Linked DNA regions of Homo sapiens. The protein of the gene in region 2 interacts with the protein of the main gene of each other region in a pairwise test. Each region holds a gene or a part of one and is shown on either strand. Other genes may lie near its edges.

Region 1 (3,500 bases), on a different chromosome or scaffold from region 2:
GTGGTTAGGACTTGCCCCTGCCTCGCAGTGCACACATTCCAGGTAGGGAGATGGACCCATAAATACAGCGATGACTGTGGCACCACGAGGCGGGTGCTGGAGATGGAAAATGCCAGGGAAGGGTGAGGATGGGAATGCGGGAGAGCTTCCCAAGTGGGCCCCAGAGGATGAGTAAGTTTTCATTCACCAGGTAGAAAGGGAGGAGCAGGGCATTCCAGACACAGGGACAGCCAGTGCCAAGGCCCGAGGGGATGACAAGCTCCAGGGAGCCGGGAAGGGAAGGATGGATGGCGTGTGTGCTGGGAACCCAGGCTGGGAGTGGCAGGAGCTGACAGGGAGCCTGCTGAAGATGCACCAAGGGGCCTGGCCTGTCTGGGGCAAGAGGGAGCCCCGGGGGTCTCCACCCAAAGACTGACCAGCAGCCTTTGGTCATGAGGAACTCTCTGTGCTGCGGAAGGGCGACCGAAGGGAGCACCTGCAGCCAGAGGGGACCTTAGCCCAGGTCCTGTCAGCCCTCCAGGCCCGGGAGCTTCGCCTGACCCCCAAGCCCTCAGGAGCTCCCCCACCTCCCAGTGCCTTGCAGATACTTGGCACTCATTCTTGTTTTCCCAACAAGCCCAAAAACTCCCAGAGAACTGGGCTGTACCCAGTTTGACACCTTCCTGATGTCCCCACCCAGGCCAGGGGCTCTTCTGAGGTTGCCTTAGGTCTAGGAGCTGGCAGTGTGGGTGGGGTCAGGGGAGGGACACCTGGGGCTCCCCACACAGAGACCCCACGCAGACCCAGGAGGTCCTGTTCACCTTCCCGCTGGGCCCAAGCCAGGGCCTCCCGCTCCCTCCGCAGCAGGCGGCACAGTCGGTCCCCCAAACCACTGAGCAGGTGCTTGGCGAGGCCTGTGCTGAGCCGGCTGTCAGGGCCGGACCCTGGGCCTTCCTCAGAGCTGGAGTTGGTGGCTGTGTCTTCCTCCTGCTGCAGCTCCCCTCCCAGAGGCGATCTGGAGAGAGGGCAGGGGGAGGTGAGCAGGGAGCCCTGGCGAGGGGGCACTGGAGGTGTCCAGGGGCAATGGCTCACCTCCGCACTTGCTGAGAGTGGCAGGCGTGCCCTCCTCCCTCTCCAGCTGCCTGGGCACAACTTTGGCATTGAGCCAGTTTTGCAGGGAGAGCCAGGCATGGTATGTCCTGAAGTCCCGGGTCCTGGAGACTGGCCTGGCCATCTTGGGGTCCTGAGGGGACAATGCAGAGGTCAGGAATCTGGGTTTCTTGGGCTGCTGAGAACCCCATTCCTCACCTTAGCGCCCACCCCATCCACACTCAGAGCCAGCCCAGTTCCTCGCCCCAGGTCTCTGAAGCCTAATTCAGAACCAGCAAGAGTGGACCAGGCAGCTGGAAGGCTCGCACGCCAGGCTGAGCAGGGAGTCTGAGGATGCCGTGACATGGACCGGCAGCCGAGCGAAGAGGTTGTCTGGTGTGTTGAGCCCAAGGCTTTGGGCAGCTGGGGCGATCGTCCTGACACAAGTGCAGGATCCAGCCAGTGTAGACTTTGGATAGCTCCACTGAGGGCTTAGTGATACCACTGGCTGCGTGACATGAGGAGACAATCCCAACGTGGACGGAGGGCGCCGGAAGGTGAGAAGGGCCAGAGAGTTTCGACACAGGCCACAGGTGCAGTAACCCAAGAAGGCGAAGGGGCCAACAAATTCCCAGCCAGGGCAGAGGCCTGGGCAGAGGGCACAGACAGGCCCATGCCAGGTGCAGGGCATTTGGGCAAGGCCACGGAGAGAGCTGATCCACACCCAGCCGTCCAGGAAGCTGAAAAAACCGAAGTGATCCCAAAGAACTAAGGCTGGAGCCGGCAGTGCCAGGGTCCTCCGTGGAGGGCACAGTGTAGCAAGTGACTCCAGGGTGCGCCCAGAGCCCTAACACTGGCAGAGTCCAAACTGAGTCTCCAGCTCCACCTGGCCAAGAGAGCAGCCATTCCTGGCGCAGGACAAGGGATCCTTCAGGACAAGCAATCCCCAAACAGGGATTTGTGGCACACGCAGTCATCACGGTGAACATTTACTGAGTGTTCACTGGGTGCCAGGAATTCTTCCAAGCCCTTGCTATGAATCATTCTAGCATTTAACTTTTGCAGCAGTCTTCCTGAGGTAGGTGCCGTCTTCTTCCCCATTTTATAGATGAAGTAACTGAGGCCCAGAGAGGCGAAGCAACTCATCCGAGGTCACACAGCTACCAATCAGCAAAGTCAGGGACGAGGCACTCTGGCTCCAGAGCCATGCTCTGAACTATGTCATTATACTGCCACCAACACACCAGGGCTTGGGAGGAGACAGAGGTAGAAGATACTTGCTGGAAGGCTCTGGCCTGGAGATGCTGAGGAACTCCCAGAGAGCCCTCGTGATCCAGGTGGGAGCCTGACCACTGGTTGTGGTCCACTCATAAAGCCTACAGACCCCGCCCCATGCGAAGCCCCAGCCCCGGCTGCCCCCTCCCACGCAGGGCCTGCAGCCCCTCCTGGCCCCCTTACCTTTCTGCTCATCATGCTGTCCCGAGTCCACATCCTTGTTCCCTATCGATGTGTCCCGCACCTCCTGCCAACCCCCAGCCCCCTGTTCTGCAGTGCCTGGAAAAGGGTCCGGTGGCCGCTTGGGGGCTGGACTGCCCATTGCTCCCTGGACCTCGGGGCTGCCTGCCCTTTTGAGGGCCCGGAGCCGAGCAACCGGCCTCTCCTCGACCTCAGGGCAGCCGCGTGGACATTCAAACTGCTCCGAGTGCCGTGTGAGCCATGTCTTCTTCAGCTTGGTGTGGTGGCTGGGGGGACAGGCCCTGGGGCCAGAGGCCTTGTTCACTTCCTCGCTGGGTTCGCTGGCTCCACTGGCACCCCCCTCCAGGCCCTCCTGGCACTTCCCACAAGGGCCAAGACCCCCACCTTTAGTGGGTGGGTAGGATGAACAGCAGCCCCGCTGGGTGACAGGCGGCTCAGGAGAGGGGCACCTTGGTGTTGCTGGTGGCCCCAGCTGGTACCCAAGGTTCCCATCGCCTGGCCCAGCCCAGACGTTGCCAAGAGTATGAACAAGGCCTGGGGGACAAGCGGGCCAGGAGGTCCAGGGCACAGTGTCTGGCTGCCCCAGGAAGAGCGGGCAAGGATTCTGCTGCCGGCCAGCTCCCATCTCTCCATCCCTCTGGTGCAGTGAAGGGCGTTCGGCCTCCCCGGCTCTCTGCAGGTGCCCACCAGAGTTTAAGCCAAACAACCCAGGTTCCGCAGCTGCCAAGGGCTCCTTTGCCAACCTGGGAATGCTCGGATCCTTGTAGTAAAAGCCCTAAAGAGGGGAGAAAGTGTTACGCTTCAGCTGACTTGGGCTCCCCATGCCTAAATGGATGGGCAGAACTGACAAGCAAGAAGGAAGGGGAGAATACTGAAGCCCTCACATTCTGATTAATAAACAGCACTGCCCTAGGTCTCTGGAGTGCCTCTGACACTGTCCTGGCAACCCCCACCTC
Region 2 (3,500 bases):
TCAGAAGATGTGGACCCAGTCTCAGGTTGGCCATTAACTGGCTGTGGGACACTGGGAAAGGCCCCGCCCCTCTCTGGCCCTGAAAACCTATGAATGGCAGAGATTGGACTAGAGCAGAGGCTTCAGGATTACTTTTAGCCATGAAACTGTTTTCTTTCCAAAGGAACCCTATGGGGACCAACATTTAAATGGATTCACGTGGTGCCACTTGGCATCTGCTGAACCCCTAATGACCTCTAAGCTCCTCTGAGGAGCTGTGGAGCTCTCTGTAGTCCATTCATCCATCTCTCTCTCTCACCCATCCCATCCATCCTATCCATCCATCTACCCACCATCCATCCATGCACCCACCATCCATCCATGCACCCACCATCCATGCATCCATCCATCCATCCATTTGTCCACCTGCCCATAACTCTATGCGTCCACCCACCCATCCATCCATTCACCCATCCATCCCTCTCAAACATCCACCCATCCACTCATCCACCCACCCATTCATCCATCCATCCCTCTCACACATCCCTCCACTCACCCATCCACCCATCGACTCATCCATCTATCCATCCATCCTCTCATTCATCCATCTTATCTGCCCATCCCTTCTTTCACTGAAGGAGGGGGACCTCTGATGGAAGCTCCATATTTGGAATTAGAACTCAGAGGAATTCCACCCTAGAGAAAAGGATGAAACAGAGCTAGACCAGTCCTTGCAGGGGCTGAATCCATTTTGTCTTAATCACCATATTGATCAAGGTGATCCGAGATTGCTAGGGCCCCCAGCTATAAGCCAAGAGTAAAAGTAAATTCTCTCTGGAGTAAAATAGAGTCATCCTTGATCTTAAATTATCTCTACAATTTTTCATATTCATTTTCCAGAACTCAAAAAAAAAAAAAAACATTGAAATCCCAATCAAACTCCCAGTACTTTTTTGTAGAAATTGATAAGCTGATTCTAAAACTCATTTGGAAATGCAAAGAACCTAGAATAGACAAAACAACTTTGAAAAAGAACACAGTTAGCAGGCTTATATTACCGATGTCAAGACTTCTTATAAAGCTACAGTAATCCAGATAGTGTGGTATTGGCATCAAGATAGACAAACAGATCAATGGAACAGAATACAGACTCCAGAAATAGACCCACACACAGTGTGGTCAACTGATTTTCGACAAAGGTGCAAAACATTTCAGTGGAGGAAGGATGGTTTCATCAGTAAATGGTCATGAAACATGATATCTACACGCAAAAACGTAAAAGAACTTTTTACTTATTATATGTAAAAGTTCATGCAAAATGGATCACAGACTTAAATGCAAAACCTAAAACTATAAAACTTATACAAAAAAACAGGAAAGAAATCTTTGTAACCTTGGGTTAGACAAAGATTTCTTAAATACAACACCAAAAGCACAATCCCTAAAAGAAAACACTGGACTTCATTAAAATTAAGAACTTTTCTCTTTGAAAGACATTGTTTTGTTTGTTTGTTTTTGGGACAGAGTCTCCCTCTGTCGCCCAGGCTGGAGTGCAGTGGTGCGATCTCGACTCACTGCAACCTCCGCCTCCCAGGTTCAAACAATTCTCCTGCCTCAGCCTCCTGAGTAGCTGGGACTACGGGCGCACGCCACCACACGTGGCTAATCTTTTGTATTTTTAGTAGAGATGGGATTTCACCTTGTTAGTCAAGCTGATCTCAATCTCCTGACCTCGGGATCCACCCCGCCATGGCCTCCCAAAGTTCTGAGATTACAGGCGTGAGCCACCGTTCCCGGCTGAAAGACACTGTTAAGAGAAAGACAAGGCCAGGCGCAGTGGCTCATGCCTGTAACCCAGCACTTTGAGAGGCTGAGGCGGGAGGATCGCTTGAGCCCAGGAGTTTGCGACCCGAATGGGCAACATAATGAGACCCCGTCTCTCTGTCTCTATCTACATATATATATATATAATGTATATAATATATAGTATATATAATTATATAATATATAATATATATAATGTATATATAATTATATAATATATAATATATATAATGTATATAATATATATAGTATATATAATGTATATAATATATAGTATATATAATTATATAATATATATAATATATATATGTTTAAAAAGAGAGAGACAAGCCACAGACTAGAAGAAAATATTTATAAAGCATATATTTGATACGAGACTTGGATCCAGGATATATAAAGAACTCTAACAACTCCATAGTAAGAAAATAAACAACCTAATATTTTCAATGGGCAAAAGTTTTTAAAAAGACACATCACCAAAAAAAAAAAAAAAAAGATATATGGAAGACAAATAAACACACAAAAATATCTTCATCATTAGTCATTAGGAAAATGCTAGTTTAAACCACAAGAAGACACCATTCCATGCCTGTTAGAACGGCTGAAATTTACAAGACTGACCATCCCAAGCATTGATGAATTTGTTCAAGAATTGAAAGCCTCGTAATAACTTTTAAAAAAAGTTAAACACACTTCTACAGTATTAACCAGCCATTATATTCTTGGGCATTTACCCAGGAGAAATGAAAGCATATGTTTCTACAAAAAATTGTACACGAACCAAAAAGGCTAGTCAAGACTCCCTGAGTTGGCTTCACAATTTATCCATGGGTTGCCACCTACGGATTGAAAAGTTCCACCCAAGCTCACCCAGATGACTGTCTGAGGGCCTGGAATGTTTCCTCCAGGGATGAGGGTGGGTTTGCCCCGGGCCTGAACCAGCTGCCTTTGCCTCCTTCCTGCTTCATTCCCTTGATCCTTCACCCCTCGCTTCCTGGGACTACACTCTACTAAAATAGCACCTAAGCCTTAGCCTCAGGCTCCACTTTCTGGGGAATGCAGAATAAGACAGACCCGCTTAGCACAAAGTTCACCCAACGCCTTGCCCTGGGTCCCCAGCTCCTGCTCCCTGGAAGGATGATAAATGACCTGACCTTCCATCTCCCCTCCTTCCTCCTCTGCTTCTCGGCCACCTGATCCCCTGTACTCTGGAAGGCATCTCTCCCAAGATGCTGCTTTCATTTTTCTCTCCATCCAGCCACCTCTGACTTCCTTTGGTTACAAACACCAGGGCAAAGATGTCTTTTTTTGGAAGCAGTTTCTTTGAGGTCTCTAGCTGAACAGGATTGCCTCGGGCTATCACAGAAGTTCCAGCGCTAGAGATAAAACGTTTCTCTTTCCAGACTTCATAACCTCTCATTCTCTTGGGCCAGTTTCTTAACAGCATTTTCTGATAAAAGTAGACCCTGTGTGTTCCACGACCCTCCGACTCTGCCCTCTTCTCCAGCACCCAGTGCCCACAGCTTCCCGGGCTTCCCTGCAGCTGTGGCAATCGGCATGGGGAGCCTCATCTCCCAGCTCCCCGCTCCACACCCCACAGTGACCTCTGACATCTCAGCAGAGGTCTTGGACCTTGATTCCTGCTTTCAAGCCTTCTCTCTGCCATTCTCCAAGGCTTCATAATGCTGAACAGGCTG

Evidence for each region.
Region 1: the proteins of MGAT5B (region 2) and HR interact in a two-hybrid assay, tested with the Homo sapiens proteins (one large-scale study listed by BioGRID).

What each region holds. Positions count from the first base shown.
Region 1 is NC_000008.11:22,124,511-22,128,010, forward strand, and holds part of HR (lysine-specific demethylase hairless), read right to left. Parts: intron 3,320-3,500; coding exon 2,527-3,319; intron 1,223-2,526; coding exon 1,072-1,222; intron 995-1,071; coding exon 801-994; intron 1-800. UniProt on the Homo sapiens protein: Histone demethylase that specifically demethylates both mono- and dimethylated 'Lys-9' of histone H3. May act as a transcription regulator controlling hair biology (via targeting of collagens), neural activity, and cell cycle.
Region 2 is NC_000017.11:76,934,404-76,937,903, reverse strand, and holds part of MGAT5B (alpha-1,6-mannosylglycoprotein 6-beta-N-acetylglucosaminyltransferase B), read right to left. Parts: intron 1-3,500. UniProt on the Homo sapiens protein: Glycosyltransferase that acts on alpha-linked mannose of N-glycans and O-mannosyl glycans.